Regions from separate parts of the Homo sapiens genome. Here region 2 is linked to region 1. A link means that fine-mapping ties the variant in region 1 to the expression of a gene that starts in the linked region. Tissue or cell type: whole blood. Region 1 holds a variant in brackets; the other region holds the start of a gene. All regions are shown on one strand. Distances are between the middles of the regions.

Region 1 (8,100 bases):
GTCTAGGAACCAGGATGATAAGACACATGGAGCAGAGCCACAGAAGCTCACATGTAACCACAACGGTCCCACGTAATGTTAGAGAAACAAATGCTCTTGTAACACTGAGATTCTTGGTGGTATTATTGCATTAAAGTTGACTAATGTACCTCCCACCAACCGTAAGAGATAGGAATTGTTATTATCCTGTGATATTGTGAAATACATAGTTGATCTTCTCCCCGTTTCCTGACATACAACTTCTAAAATCCTTAGAATCTCCAAAGTGATGTCTTTTTATATGCTGATGAGTTGACTGATGCCTGGCAGCCCCTGGGTAGCTTCAGGATGGGGCTGGTCACTGGAAAGACCACAGCAGGATTAGAAGGATGGCAATTTCAGCTCCACCCCATCAACATCTGGGGAGGAGGGCAACTGAAGGTGAAGTGGATCACCAATGGCTGATGGATTAATCAATCATGCCTGTGTTACAAAGTCTCCATAAAAGCTCCCAAAGGACTGGGTTCAGAGAGCTTCTGGATACCTGAACACATGGATGTTACTGGAGGGTGCCACCTGGGGTCGGGGGGTGCAAAGGGGAAGGAGTATGGAAGCTCCGCACCCTTTCCTTCATACCTCACTATATGCATTTCTTTTTCTATATCCTTTGGAATATCATTTGTAATAAACCAGGAAATGTGTTTCGCTGAGTTCTGTGAACCGCTCTTGCAAATTAACCCAAGGAGGGGGTCACGAGAATCCCAACTTGAAGTGGGTAGTTCACAAGTTCCAGAGGCCAGGGCTTGTAACTAATGGGAAGGGTGGAGACCATCTTATGGGACTGAGCCCTCAACCTATGGGAGGTGATGCCATCTCCAAGTAGATAGTGTCAAAACTGAATTAGAGGACACCCAGCTGGTGTCCCTGCAGAAATGATTGCTTGGTTGGTGTGTGGGGAGAATCCCTCACCCCGTTTGGTCACAGAAGTCTTTTGTGATTATTGCTGCTGAGTGAGAGAATAGTAGAAAGCACTTTGTTTTCTTCCACACAGAATCCCCATTTCACAGATGAGAAAACTGAGGCAAGAAACTCGCCCAAGGTCATGCACATTTGTAAGTGGCAAAGCCAGACTTTGAAATCAGAAAGCCTGGCTCCAGAGCCTATTAACCTCTCTATAACAGTCTATCTCCCAAATGGGATTCTAGGCAATTTTTATGCAAATTAAATTATTGAAAATGGTCACGCATGATATTTACAAAACACAAGGGAGAAAGGGAACAAGGGTGTGGGAGGCAGGGGGTGGACACAGTCTGGGCATCTTTCTGCACATATTTCTGGGGATTCTGGCCCAAGAGAGGCCAGATCCCTTAGTGGCTGGGACATCTCTGGGAAACTACCCAGCAGGGACCAGTGTGTCCCTGAGCCCAGTGGTATTTGAAGGGTTCATTCCAGGAAAAAGAGTCTTCTGGGGTGAGAAAAATCCTGGCAAGACAGTTTCATTTTCCTATGTCTTTGTCCCCTGCACACCACTGGCTTGCGCACACACACACAGACACACACACACACACACACACACACACACACACACGCTGTCTCAGCAGGGAGCACTGCTGCCTTGGGTCTGTGTTTGGCAACATGGATCCCCAGCCCAAGTGCCAGAAAGGCAGTTATAGGTGTGGCTCATGTGCGGTAACAACAGTGGTCCGTCTCCCACCAAGAACTCTCAGCCCAGGGATCCTGAACAATGGTTCTTTCCACCAAGCCTGAGACTTGGCTTTCTGTTTCCTTTGGACTCTCTGGGAAAGAAAACCCTGGGAGTTCCCATTCCTAGGTCTGAGAAAACATCTCTGTTAAAAGTTGACCAGGAGGGCACAGGGCCCTACCCTGCACAACGTGAGTCTCAGGCAGGGCACGTGAGCAGCTAGCCTGATCCCAAACAATCGCAGCTCTCAGGGCCTAAATATAGCCCATGCATCTGGCTGTTTTTATACTCAGTTGCTTGGCTCTGATCGACCAAGCTTCCTGTCTGATCACCACTGAGGAACTGAGGGCAGGGGGATGCTGCCCACCACTGCACCTGGCAAGGATATCCCGCTGCCCCTCCGCAGCTGCAAGGCACCTGCGTCCTACACACCCGGGACACATTTTGCAGGGCTGGTTCCTCCACAAATCATCTGGTCAGACTGGATAAGCTTTGGGCCTTGTTTCCATGGGACTAAGGGGCCAGATGTATCCTGGGTGAACCCTGGCTCTATTTTGCCAGTGGGAAGGTCTTTATTCCATTTTCTGGTAAACATTCCAATCCGGTAGCATATGGTTATCACCAAAGAAAAACAAGATGTTTTTGATCCCTTCTGGTAATTTGTTCTGGGCAAACAAACTTGTTTTTCCTGAGTCCAGTCCTTTTGCAATCATGCTGATTTCATCCTGTGCTGTTTATTATTCTCTCTGGTTCTTGAGGCCTGGCCTGGCAAGACAGTCCTATTTTAGGAGACAACACTCTCCCATAGCAATCTTTGCTTTATCTTCGGATACGTTTATTACCTGAGACACTAGGTAGCCAATGGGGCATATGAGAAATACCCTAAGCTCTATGTAGAAAGAAAGCGGGAGCTCCCCACAGGAACCAGTAGGAAACCACAGAGACCAGCCTCTAACGTTTGAAATTATGGGGTTGAGGTGAGCTGAATTTGCAGCTTTTCAGATTGCCTCTGAACAGCAAATATGATGTTGATTTAGAAAAAAAGGTGTGAACTCCTCAGCTGATTGCAGAAGTGTACCTTTTCCCTTTTTCTGAGCCACTTGCTAGTGATTTTTCTGACCCATAACGTTCAGAAATTAGATTGATAACACCTACTTTAAAAGTGAACTTATCCGAAAAGGCCTTAAATAATATTGTAATAACTTTCAAAAGCAAACCAACCAACCAAACAGGCTGGTACTTAGGGAGGGTCTCCTGCTCCACTGGCTTCCTGTGTGCCAGGACCTGGCCTGCTCCTAGCTGGCAGGTGCATCTTGGCCTGTGACGCCACATGCACTTCTTAGCCAACTCTGCCTTGGCCTCCACCTCACTCCCAGGAGCTTTGCCGGTTCGTTGCTCAGCTGATCTCTTGACCCTTCCAGTGTCTGGCCTTCTTCTCCTGATGAGAAGACCCCTAGACACAGGACAGACTGGCTCCATCTTTGTGCCTCCAGGGCTGAGCACAGGCCTGGCACAAGGCAGTCACTCAGTTACAGCTGAACAATGGGACAGGAGCTGTCCTCCACCTGAGATTGTAAATAATAGCTTGGGAGTACAATTACCTGGGAGCTCCTGTTTGATTTGTTTTGTACCCTCTCCTAGGCCCTGCTTCCATCCCACCTGAGCCCCTGGCCTGGAAGATTCTTGGGGCCCTCCTGATGCTAAGATTCTGTGACTCGGGGTGACTCTATTGCTCATCATCCAGGTCACCTCTAGGCTCCCACCAGTGACGCCTGCGTGTTCCATGGCAGCCTCTCCTCAGGCTCCACCCTAGTCCCCAGGGCATGCACAGAAATGAAGGAGTCATGTCGGCTCCTAGAGCAGCGAGTTGTGGCTCTTCTGCCAAACATGGCCACACATCCTTTAGGATAAGAGTTTCAGAAGTTAGAGCCGGGGGTCAGGGTGGATGCACAGAAAGCAAAAAAAAAAAAAAAA[G/AG]CTTGGTTCTCACTTCTTCAGTTCAATACAGCACACCTTTATTGAGCACCTAAGGATCTATGCTGCCAGAGGAGGGCAGAGTCGACAAAACAGTGGGCAGGCCTCCCCTGCAGCTCTCTGTGTCTGTGATGATGGAGCTGGGTTGGGGAAATCCTGCTGTGACATTTGCCCTGACGCAGTTCCGCACAGCATGGTGGCTTCCAAGCTATGCTCTTGATGGGCACCCGTAAGGAGCTTCTACATGCATTAGAGATGGAGCCTCTCCTATCTTTGCAAGCCTTTGTGGTTCTTCCCTTTAAATCTGCCATCCACGGACCTCAACAGGAGAATAATTTGGTCTTCAGTTTGCTCTGTTTTAGACAAATACTTCACATGACTGATGTAAACTGTTGCATAGTTTCGCAAAGGCTTTCTCATTCATTCCTGAAATTCTCCATCAGTCACAAACACAAATTGTTCAGTATCTGGGGAATTCAAAGCCCTTTCCTCAAAACAGACATTTCTCCTTATCATTCTTCCTTCAGGGGAAGTATTGAAAGTCATTGAAAGTCATCCCCACCCACTAGAGGAGAGAAACGCAAGCCCAGAAAAGGCAAGAGGTACACAGGCATCCACGGGACAGTGGTGATGGGGCTGAGCACTGCCTTCCAGAGCTGCTGCTGGGCATTGAGCGGGCAGCACCCTCTCAATGCCATGTGGACCCTCCTCAATGTGATTGAATGACCGTGTTTCTTGCAGCAAGCTCCTTGTAAGAATCGCTTTAGGTCTCTCTGATGAAGTAAAGATTGATTTCTGCAGAGAAAGTGAGATACTTGTGGCCTTATTCCTGGTCTCACCTCTGTGTTGGGGCTGAGCTGTGCGAGGCTCACAGGGTGATATTGGAGGCTTAGAAGCCGGGGACACTGTGGCAAGGTGATGGCTGAAAGCAGGCTAGATCTCATACCTGCTGGCAGGCCCTGCTTTTCCCAGCAGCATTCCTGTGGGGCAGCGTGATATGAGGGCAGACAAGAATCTCATATGAAGGAAGAGGACAGGGGCTTGTGGACCCACAGGGGCTCTGGGACAGGCAATGTGCAAGCAGATGAAGCCTAAGCCGCAGGGGCTGGGCCAGCACTGCTCTCCAGTGCAGGAGAGGCATGGTGTGGACAGGGCTGGCCACACAGATCTGACCCAGCAAGTTCCTGGCCCCTCAGGCCTGGGTCGGCTTCCTGTGGGTGCTCATCTTGGAGCCAAGAGCTGGCTGTGGGAATCATGGTGCTCAGGCTTCAGAGAGGTAGACACACAGGCACTCGATTCGTCAGGCGGTGGCCATCAGTCAATGTGACCGGCCGGGGCCAGCAACCAGGGCTCAGTGTACACCTGCCACTGCTGGGGACTTTGGAAGAGGCAGGTGTTGGCCAGTTACTTGGCCTCCACCAGCTGCTCCAGGCGCTGCAGCATCGTCAGACGCAGGGCTTGGAACCTGGAGGGAGACATCGCCAAGAGGACTCACTGAGGCCAGACAGGGCAGGGAGGTGGGCAGCAGAGCAAGGGACCTGCAGATGGCCAGCTCAGGAGATCCCTGCAGCAGCCTCATCTCTCCTCTGCCAAGGAGGGGGAAGGCTGTGGCCTGCGCCTCATGAGGTGCAGTCAAACCAGGCTGTGGACTGCACAGAGCATCAGAGCAGAGTGTTGTCATTTCTATTGCAGACTCTAATACAGACAACAGCACACTGGAGTGGACAGGGCGGTAGAGCAGAGATCGGGAAGCCCATGTTTCAGCCCAGATTCTGCCATAACCTATGCGGCAACCTTCCTTGTGCTGGGCCTCAGCGTCCACTCTGTACGTTGAGTGGACCCACTAGTTGCCCCCCAGATCCCTTTCAGCTCTCAAATCTTACGGGGTCAGGACTGACTGCAGAATGGAAGATTCCCTCTGACTTTGGTCTCCTCTGCCTGTTTGGGGTCTGGCTGCACAGACAGGAGCCTGTGGAGGATGTGGCTTTCCACGGGTCATTCAACCAGAGGCTAACATCCATCCTTTCCCCACACACCCCAGGCCCTCTCAGTGAGCTCCTGCCCTTTCCTTCCTAGCTGCCTCCCCACCAGCCCTGGTGGGGTGCCCTCCACAAGTCCTGGACCACACTTCACTTTGCTGAGGGGGAGACGTCATTGGGACTACAGCCTGGCTAACTCATGCATCCGGACCCTGGCGTGGTGTCCCCAGGAGCTGGCAGGTGAGACCTGCTCACCTTTTCATTGAACTAGCCCTCTGCACCTGAAAACATCGGCTGAGGCTGGGAGTTCCAGCATCTGCCACTTTGGGGAAGGCTCAGAATTCCCACTAGGACAAAAGGCCCTAATCAGGCCAAGTCTGCCTCAGCATGCCTGCTCCTTGGAGCCACATCACCAGCAGAACTCAGAAGCTTGACCCAGCGCCCACTTGGGTTCCTGCCTGACTTTCCTGCCAGGTGTTCTGCAGCTCATGCCTGCGCTGGTGAGGATGCCAAGACTGGATGGGTGATCGGGGCTGTGTCCCACTGTTTTGGCAAGCTGTCACCCCAGCGTGGTGGCAATACCGAGCAGGGGGCCAGAGGGTGATGCTGGGGAGCTAGGGTTAGCAGGCCTTCCCGTACCAGGGTACTGGTGCCCATGGAGGAGAGAGACCTCCCAGCCGGCACTGGTGCTGTGCTTTGCAGACCTGCCCTGATGTTCAGGACCCATGACTGTCTGTTTAAGTGCTGCTTACTTCATGGTCAGTTTGATTATTTCTCTTTCTTCCTCTTCTTTTAATTTTTCAACAAAACTGTCCAGCACCGGCATTTCAAACTTAATGTACTGAGCGACCTAGAAAATCCAAGAACATTTTAATGTGCTTTAAATTCGAAGCCAAAAGTATGTTTTCTTTTCCTCAAGGCTTCCATAGTGGCCCATCCAGCCAACATCTTGTATCCACAGAAGGAGCTGCCGCTTTTCCCACCCCACCCCCACACTGCTGTGTTGTGTACAGATGCCAGGACGGGAGCCTATTACTATCTCAAAGGCAACTGTTATCCCTGGGAGGAAATATTAAACTGAATATTAGGAAGAGCATTCAGTACAGCAGCATTGTCACATTGGGTGCCCTCTGGGCTAGGGGGTAGGGAGGTGGGAGCACCATTGTTTCTAACAATGGAATGCAATTGCAGCAGCCTGAGGGATACGGGGTCACTAGGCCTCCTACTTGAGGTTCAAACCCTGTAAGCATCTTCTATGCAGAGGAGTTTGGAAATGCACTCACTGTCTGGTCAGAACTCAGGCTGTTGGTAAGACTTAAATATCTCCCTGTTTTCCACAGGTGCGAGGTAGGGCCTAGTTAAAAAGCCTTTGCATAGGTCTCTCACATAATGACAACAAAATACATTCCAATGAAGGAAAAGACTTTACTTCCCTAGAGGAAAAGGACAGGCCATGGTTTTATAGGACCCAAATTCTTCTTTCCCCTAAGCTGCTGGTGCTGGCGGTCACTGATGGGAGAGGGAGGGCTGGCGCCTCCCTGTGCTAGGCTGGGAGCCCTTTGGGAGAGTGTGGAGCTCCTGGAGACATCAACTGACAGGGCTCTGGCCAGGAGTCCTTGGGAGGCCCCGTCACCCAAGAACCCCTCACCCTAGAGCAGGCCTCCCCAGCCTTGGCCCCCACTCACTTCATGGGGGACTTCCACGCCCAAGTCAGCTTCCATCAGGAAGATCCTGGCGATCTTCTCACATGGCCCATGCAGGATTCTGGAAATCAGCGGGTACTCGCAGTCTTTTAATTTTGTCCGCTCTGAAAAAGAAGGTGGTTTACAAAAATCACGGGAGATTAGGATCACCTCTGTCTGTTCCAGATTAGGAACTGATAGAAAATGTGCGTCTAGGGGCGCAGGGAACCCTAAGAACACAGACCTCGCTAACAGCGCTGCCCTGAGAGATTCCTGCTCATGCAGAAGGGAGGCAGAACAGGGCCCCCAGATCTGCCACTTTGGCATAAGGATTAAGTGGAGCGGCTGGCAATTGAGAAGAAGAAGATACAAGTGAGGCTCTTTGCCCTCCCCTATTTGCCAAAAAGCAGGACATAAATTTGTCAAGGTGTGCCCCCGTCCCTCTCTAGGCAATGATGGAGTTAATCACCAGAGACAACCCGAGCCCCTCCTCAGCCTGGAGAGGGCACCAGAGGAACCTGCACAGCACGTCCCGCTGAAGCCCTTCCCTTCCCGCAGCTCCCCGTGCGGTGACCTTCCCACCCTTCGCCTCCCCAGAAACTCAGGCCCTTCTCCTCTGTCTTGTCACTTCTCTAAAAACTTACTGCTCTTTTGTGAATATGCTATTTAAGCCCAAATTCTGACCATTCATCCCTGGATATTCCAAAGGGCATGCATGATGCAAGTGTTAACAAACTTCTGTTTGTTCTTCTCCTTAATCTGTCTTTTGTTAATCTAAATACAGGGC
Region 2 (8,084 bases), 35 kb after region 1:
TGATTTTTATTTTCTTATTTCAGCGTGATTTAAATCAAATAGGTCATAACGAAAGTGACCTGGGAAGCAAAAGAAAGGAGGACAAGTGTGTGGGGCACAGCTGGGAGCCTGAGCTGCTCCCGCTGGTGGAGGACAGCAAGTGCAGGCCACAGAGCAGGTGCAGGCCACGCTGACGGCATTCCTGGGGGGACTAAGTTCCTGACTGCAGTCTGTGGCTACCACATTCGAATTGCCAGCCACAACGGCAGCAGGGCACAGAGGACAATGAAGCTTTAAAAGGCCCCTCCCAGCACCTGTTCGCCAGCAAATGGCAGGAGCCTGGCCAGTGAAGAAGTTGCAGCGTCTGCCGAAACCAGGTGCCTCTGAGGGGGTACCCTCAGCCAAGCATTTTTGTGGTGAGAGCCGGCTGTCTGGTTGTAGATGGCAGGCGGCGACTCAGCAGCTGCTGCTCCCACCTCCTTCCACACTGCTGTCCCCTCCTGCTGCCCAGTTCCAATCACCAGACCCCTCCTCTCCACTCCCGCCATCATCCCTCTGGCTCAACTCACTCCTCCCTGCCCCAGAAGACTCTGCACTGTCCAGGTGGAGGTGATGGAGACCAGGGGAGTCCAGGAGAGGCGGGCACAGAGCTCCCCTCCACCTCCACTCCCGCCTTGCCCTGGACTGACCACACAGGCCCAGCTCACCTTTACTCCCCGCTGCGGTTCTGGCCTCTCACTGACAGGTCTCTCTGAGTCCAGTCCAGCATCCAGGCCTCCCTGATACAGCTCCCCTTCCTCTGAGAGCCTGGCCCTGAGCAGCCATGTAGATCGCAGACCAGCCTTCCCAGTGGGCAAGACTTCTGGCTTCTGCCCTTGTTTCAAGGCAAAGCAATTTGGGACAAGAAAACCATTTCCAGTCCTCCTGCTCCCCCCTTACACCTTAAACATACATTCTCTGCTCCTGGAACCCCCTGAACCACTCCTCAACTTCCCCACCAACCAGGCTCACCTCTAGCCTATGGAAGAGAAGATCCACAGAAACAAAGATCTTCTTAGCTATGGTTTTCGGGCCAAACGTGCTCAAAATGGGCACTGTCCAATATCCCGATTGCCTGGGGCTGGGAGTGCAATGCAGAGGGGCAGACCCCTCTGGGTGCCTGCTGCTGCAGGGCTGCTCTGGAGGCTCTCTACGGCTGCCCTCACCTGTGCTGTCCACTGCCCCAGGCCTGTGTGCCACATGTCACTGCTGGGGACATAAGGGCCCTGTGAGACAAAAGGGTCCCAGAATCTTTTGGGTCATAGAGTCCTTTGGAGTCTCTTGAAAGCTTAGTGCACTCTCCCCAGAAAATGCATGTATGTGCATGTTGTTGCAATCTGCATCCACGTGCAAACACACACACAATTTGCATATCACTGCAGGGAGATGAGACAGCTCTTGTCCATGTACTCCCAGATCCCCAGATCTTAGGTTTAGAATCTCTGCTGAAACCTGTCACAGCAAGAAAGAGGAGGCAGAGGAACGTTGTAGAGCCTTGCATGTGAGTTTTGCTGTGGCATTAACTTGGCCTGTGATCCTAGCGTGTTGCGCCGTCTCTTGGGCATCAGTTTAGCCAGAGCTGTTGTGGCAGCTGATAGAGAGTCTTCAGGGCTCTTCCCAGCACTGCAGCTATGGGGCTCAATGACACCCCACCCCTGCTTCCCAAGGTCAGGCAGGGCAAAGGGAGGGGGTTCCGGGCCTCTTCCTCAACAGTATATCCTAGGGCAGAAGGTGGGACAGCCAGAAAAGGAGACCCCGGGAACTACAAGTTTCTCTTTTACAAAAATAAGAAAACTGTTGAAGCTTTAGGAAGTGCAGCCACTTCTTATTTGATTTTCTTTATTTTAAAACAATTTCCCCAAACATACTCTGTGAGAGAATAACCACCTAGCCTTTGCAAGGCTCTGGGTTTAAAGCTCTGCTCTGTGACTGCCTGGCTCTGTTACCTTAAGCAAGTCCAGTTCCCTCTCTGAACCTTGGGCTCCTCATCAATTAAATAACTATAATCCTCGATGACTTCTGTGAAGACGAATGAGGAGACCTGTAAGATGGGCCTTGTGTTGGGCTCACCCATAATGAAAAGAGGCTCCCATTACTATTCTTATTGACACTGGGAGTTGGGGGCTCTGGAGAGACTGTGGAGCCCCAGAGATGGGAATGTGAGGCCTGCCTGCAGGAGTGGCCATGAATGAGGAGAGAGTCTGAGCTGACACCTGAAACCAGGCCCCAGACCCCAGGGGCCCAGGGCAGAGGGCTTTCTGGCAGATCCCCTAGTTAGGTCTCCCCTTTGAGGCTTTGCACGTCCAGAATCTGAACTCTGACACACACCCAAGTTTCGTTCATGTTCTTTGTTATCTGTCATGGTCCACTTGGTCCTGACCCAGGGCGACCCTGGACCTTGATTCTGTTCTCGACCTCCAGGCTACCCACTGGAGCTTCATGGTGGAAATACAACCCAATCTCCTGAGTTTCAGACAGACACTTTAATCTGTAGCATCAACCTTTTTGTTGTCAAATCACCAGCACTACACACTGAGAGAATTATGGCTAGAACTAATGACAACAGCCTTCACATACACTGACAAAGTGCTGAAACAGCCCATGACAATTTCCGGCCAGCATTTTTTTAACCTAAGTTTAATGAGTTTCATCTCTCCTCTTCCCTCCCTTCCTCTTTCTCCTCTGACCCTCTCCCTTCCTGTCTTCTCCCCTAACCTGCTGTCCTGGCAGAAGTAGCTAAGGAACCACACAGAGGAACAGAAGGCAGGATGGTCTACATTTACCTGTTACTTCACCAATTCACTTCTAACTTAAAAAAAAATGGTTTCTGGCAACAAATCCTGATTGACACCTTAGTACTGTGGGCAGTTAAACTACAGCAAAGCCAGCGAGGGGCTCCTCTGTGAGTGCAAAGCATAGCTTTGGAGTCTAACCTGCTTGGGTTCAAATTCCAGAAGCCCAGCCCTTATTTGCTGTGCGACCTTATTTAATTCCTATGTGAAATGGGGCTCCTGAAGCTGTCCTTACTGTGTTTTAAGAAAGTGCTGGCCCTGGCCTGGGCACTGATTCTGGTGTGAGAGGAGGCCTCCCTCCCTCCGCCGTGCCAGGTTAATGAAAACACTGAGGCATGTTTTGGAAGTGGGAAGTGCAGGATGGGACCGGAGTCAGGAGCCCAGAAGAGCAGGGCAGCAGGCAGGCTGACCTTCGGAGACTAAGGGTGAAGAGCAAGAGACTCAGGGGCACAACAAGCCCTGGGTTCAAATCCTGGCTCCATCACCAACTCATCCGGTAAAGGTGGACAATTTTATAACTCTTTAAGCCTCAGTTTTCACATCTGAAAAGGGGATAACGAAAGTAGGACTCTCACTTGCTGTGAGGAGTAAGAGGCATATCGTGTTAAAGCACTTGGCCCAGAGCAAGGCGAGCCCTCTACAGACAGCGATTGTGAGACAGACCCCCCCTGCTGCTATTATCTTGGCGTTCGATTTCCATCAGTGAAATCAGAGTTGTGCCAGAGGCCTCTAGGCTCTCTCCCCAACTCTAGGATCAGTGCTTCTAGGAAACTGGTTAAGGACAAGGTGAACAAAAAAGGTGTAGCCAGTGGCCGGGCTCATCTGTCTTGCTCAGGTTGTAGCCCCTAAATTGCTTAACAGAGGTGCCAGGCGCAGTGCCCCCTCTCAGCAATGAGCCCGAGGCCCGCAATGCGCCAGGCTGGCGGGGGAGGGACCCTGCGCGCTGCGGCCGAAGGGCACAAGTGCCCAGGCTTCAGCGTCCCTGCCTGGTGGCAGTCCTGGGTCGGAGGGGATGCTCCATGGACGCCCAAGCACTCTCCTGCTCGTTCATCACTCACCGTCCAGTCATCGCGCAGTCCAGAAGCCACTGCATGTGTCGTGTCCTCGCTTGCACCGGAGCTGCGCCCGCAGCGCCTGCTGACCCCAGGCTTCAGCTGCTCGGGGCCAGGCCCGCCCCTCGCCCCGCCCCTCGCCCCTCGCCCCGCCCCGCTCCCCGCCTCTCGCCCGGCACGGCCAAAGGTGCCGCCCCGGTCTCTCCGTCCCGCCCCGAGCACGCCCCTCACTCCGCACCGGCCAATGGCACCGCCCCGTCCGCCCCGCTCTGGGAACGCCGGTAGGTTCCGGGTGCAGGGCGGTGGCCTAGGGGCGGCGGGGAAGATTTGGGGCCTGCGACCTGCCAGGTGTCCCCAGGCCATTGTTCAGCTCGCCGCGCGCTCCCGAGTTCCCGAGGGCGCCCCGGGACGCGAGGAGAAAGCAGCCCGACTCAGCCCCGAGAGGTTCGGTGTGCGGGCAGCGGCCAGGGACTTTGCGGGGTAGCGCGGACTCCTGGACTTCCAACAAGGGCCGCTGCGCAGGCGCTGCAATCACTGCAGGCACTTGTCTGCATGCCTGGTGGGGCTTGGAGTCTGGGGAGGCTTATCAGTAAAGCCCAGAGCATTTGCTATTTATTGCTCAAGGGGCACCTTTGTACAGTCTGGCCGTTTGCTTGGCATGGCCTCTTAGAACTCCTTATTGTTTAAGAAATCCGATCTGGTGAATAAGAAGTTAGTCTTTCTCTCCCAGTCACTGCCTCCTGGACGAATATTTGCCAGCACGGAGGCAGAGAGGACAGAAAACCACAAGCCATTTGGGGAACTGGGAACAGTTCAGTGTTTCTGGGGTGTGGGGGTGTCAAGGTGGGGGATGGGGTTGATGGAAAACATTTGCAATTTCTGCTTTACCTCACGATTCCCAGCTCTGACCTCTGGACCTGTTCTCTCCCACCCCTAACATAAATCATTTTAGTTTCATTCAGTGTGCGTTTCCTAATATTTTTAGGGTCTCATGGCCATTTTAGAATCTGATATGGATCTTCTAGAAAGTGCAGGTGGCCATATGCACCAAAATCAGCCTGGGATTTGAGTCTCATGGGTCCCTGAACTTCGACTTAGAGGGGCTGTGCTAATGCTTGTATGGCTGCTGTATGACTTATGTTGGAACCCCCACCTGCAAAAAGTGACAGGACTGAAGATACCCAGTCCAGGGGCCCTCCCGTTTCTGCGTTTGCTTGAATTTTTGGAGAATGGCCCATCCTTTGACAGCTCTGAGGCTCCCTGTGGTTGGTGACTTGTCATGACACATTTGCTCTTCCACAGCCCTCATCAAAGCTGAGACAAATAATCGGGTGCTTCCAAAGGTTTTTTAAAAGTGGGTAAAATTCAATATAACTGTCAACCTCTGAGCATGAGATCCTAAGAATTTAATCACTCCTGATAGGAGAAGTAAACATAGCACCAGGGTGACATAACAGTTTCCCTGGGCTCTCCAGAACTCGAGTGTGAATCATTCTCTCTGACCTAATTAATGCTGTTCACAGGGCCATGACTGGCTCTGAGTGAGGACTGGGTTTGGGACAGCAACCCCATGTGTCCTGTGCACCCATTGTGGGCTCAGACACTATGCTAGTGCTTTACATTGGGGATCCCATGCAATTCCCCCAGCACTCCTGGGCAGTTGGTGTTACTGCTTGCATTTTTTAAAATTTCCATTTTTATTTTAAATTTAGGGGATACACGTGCGGGTTTGTTACAATTGTACATTGTGTGGTACTGAGGTTTGGGATTGATCCTGTCACCCAGATGGTGAGCATAGTACCCAATAGGAAGTTTTTCACCCCTCGCCCCGCTGTCTCCCTCCCACTTTTGAAGTCCCCAGTGTCTATTGTTTTTATCTTTATGTCTAGGTGAACCCGATATTTAGCTCTTTTGCTTGTAAGCGAGAACATGTGGTGTTTGCTTTTCTATTTCTGCATTAGTTCGCTTAGGATAATGGCATCCAGCCACATCCATCCTGCTGCAAAGGACACGATTTTATTCTCTTTTATGGCTGTGAGTGCTTGCATTTTACATCAGACACAGGTGTCCATTGTCAGCGTCCTCCCCTCAGAAGGGGAGGGTCCATTGTCAGACCCCTCAGAAGGAGGGGTCACCTTTTCTTTCAGGGTTCAGTAGAACTGGGTGTGGTCTCCAGCTCACTTATGGTGGAGGCTACAGATACTGTTGGTTGCCAGCCAATGTCCATTTCCTTCTTTGGAAAAAAGAAAGATAGGAAAGAAGGAAAAGGACAAAAAGGAAGGAAGGAAGGAAGAAAGGGAAAGAGGGAGGGAGGAAGGAAGGAAGGACGGAAGGAAGGAAGGAAAGAAGGAAAGGAGGGAAGGAAGGAAGGAAAGGAGGGAAGGAAGGAGGGAGGGAGGAAAGAGGGAATGGGGAAGAGAGGAAAGAGAGAGGGAGGGAGGGAAGGAAAGGAGAGAGAAATACCCACTTGTCTGTAGCAGCAACATGCCAGCCCCTAGTTATGGCTCATGCCCACTTGTATTTTTCATACTCTACTTACAACCCAATAGTGGGTCATGAAATTAATTTAGTTGATGATGTGACTAGTACTTCAAAAATGCAAGGGAAAATACCAGTGTACAGCACAAATAGTAAATATAAGTTGTGTTTTGTGGAACTTTTTGTTTGCATTGTTTATGTTTCAGTTATGTGTGCTTCTTACTGTGGGTTACAGTTAAAAAAAACAAAACAGCTGTCTAAGTCTTGACAATCCTTTTCATAGCTTTTTTTCAGTGAAGCTAGAAGTGGCCATACGACCTACTTCTGGACGCAGAGATGGGGGAAGGTGTCCTGGGGGAGGAGAGATCTGAGGGATGGTGAAGATAACTTTTGCTTTTCTGGTAGAAAGAACAGATGTCTCTCCTGCCTGCCTGTCTCAAATGAGGACATGATGTGTAATGTCTGGAGCACTGGCAGCCATGTTGAGATCATAAAGCAACATGTCCGCATGCTGAGGCTGGCAGAGCATAAAGATCAAAGGTGTCTGGATCCTTCTTAACATCATGGAGCTTCTGCACCAACCCTGCACTGCCTACTCCAGACTCCCTACCATGGAGAAAAATTAGCCCCTATTTCTTCAAGGCAGAGGTTGGTAAACCTTTTCTGTACAGGGCTGGATAGTAAATATTTTAGGCTTTGTGGGCTAAATGGTCCGTGTCACAACTACTCACCACTACTGGGGTAGTTTGAAAGTAGCCATAGACAATATGTAAACCAAAGGACATGGTTGTGGTTCTCATAAAACTATTTTAAAAAATGGATGGCAGGGCTATAGTGTGCCAACCCCTTCCCTAGATGATCTTGTCCCCTAATTGTCTCTCTGACCTCATCTCCTCCTACTGCCTCTCCTTCTCCCTGCTCTGATCACACTGTTTCTCCCACACACCCAGCCTGTTCCTGTCAGGGTCATTCCTTCCCTTGGAGGGCTCTTTCCCCAGATGTCCACAGCGCTCCCTCCTTCCCCTGCTTCAGGTCTTTAATCACAAATCACCTCCTTTTTCAGGTCGTCCCTGGGCCCTCTGTAAAATGCCCGTCCCTGACCCACGCATACCACTCTGGCATGCTGTATATTCCAGTCTTTATCATGAGCTCCTAGAGGAAGAGACACTATGTTTCCTTAAAAACTGATTCTGTCTGGATTGTCACAGTGTTTAATCAATATCTGATGTATGATTGATTTTTTTTTTTTCTTTTTGCCAGATTCAGGTAAGAAAACAAACTCAGGGAGGCTGAGTTCCCCCTCCAAATGACATGTGCAGATAGTGGCAGAGTCCAGGTTTGTGCCTGATGGCCCAATGTGGTGGTGTCTGTACCACCCGGGAGTGAGGGAAAAACAACATCTACCTCTAATGGAACACACTGGGTCTCAGGGGAGCCAAGGCCACACAGAAGTTCCTGCAAGACTCCTTGCTCCAGGGCGCCGCCCCAGTAAAGGAGGCCTTTGGGAGTCCATTAAGTGAGCAGGGTGTCCTGTTCGTCTTGGGCAATTGCATTCTTTTTGGCCTTCCTACCTCAGAAAGACTTAGGAAATGCTGTTATTCTGCAAACAGTTTGGACTGACTTGTAAGATCCGTAAAAAGACAAATGGAAACACTCATGAGCCAGTGTTTTTATGAAAGAGCCGCAAAGGATAAATTTATGTTTAATTCGCAAGTAGGGAAGCTCATAAGAGCCTAAGAGCTTG

What was found. PIP is the estimated chance that this variant, and not a neighbour inherited with it, causes the effect.
Region 2: it holds the start of RASSF4, and the variant in region 1 is fine-mapped to the expression of RASSF4 in whole blood (INTERVAL, PIP 0.98).

What each region holds. Positions count from the first base shown.
Region 1 is chr10:44,990,286-44,998,385 of GRCh38, reverse strand. RASSF4 (Ras association domain family member 4) reads right to left here. Exons shown (of 11, transcript NM_032023.4): 9 at 7,317-7,438; 10 at 6,384-6,481; 11 at 2,495-5,117. The coding sequence ends at 5,057. LOC124902530 reads right to left here and starts at 4,350. Exons shown (of 3, transcript XM_047426129.1): 1 at 4,215-4,350; 2 at 3,445-3,581. The coding sequence starts at 4,350. It overlaps ZNF22-AS1 (ZNF22 antisense RNA 1), which reads left to right. Exons shown (of 4, transcript NR_126421.2): 4 at 4,180-4,454. RefSeq lists enhancers at 5,662-6,161, 6,162-6,663, 6,693-7,384. The variant G/AG (reference allele first, on the strand shown) is at 3,656.
Region 2 is chr10:44,955,651-44,963,734 of GRCh38, reverse strand. It overlaps RASSF4 (Ras association domain family member 4), which reads right to left and starts at 3,933. Exons shown (of 11, transcript NM_032023.4): 1 at 3,869-3,933. It overlaps TMEM72-AS1 (TMEM72 antisense RNA 1), which reads left to right and starts at 4,046. Exons shown (of 8, transcript NR_033842.1): 1 at 4,046-4,143. RefSeq lists a silencer at 3,963-4,182 and an enhancer at 3,960-4,254.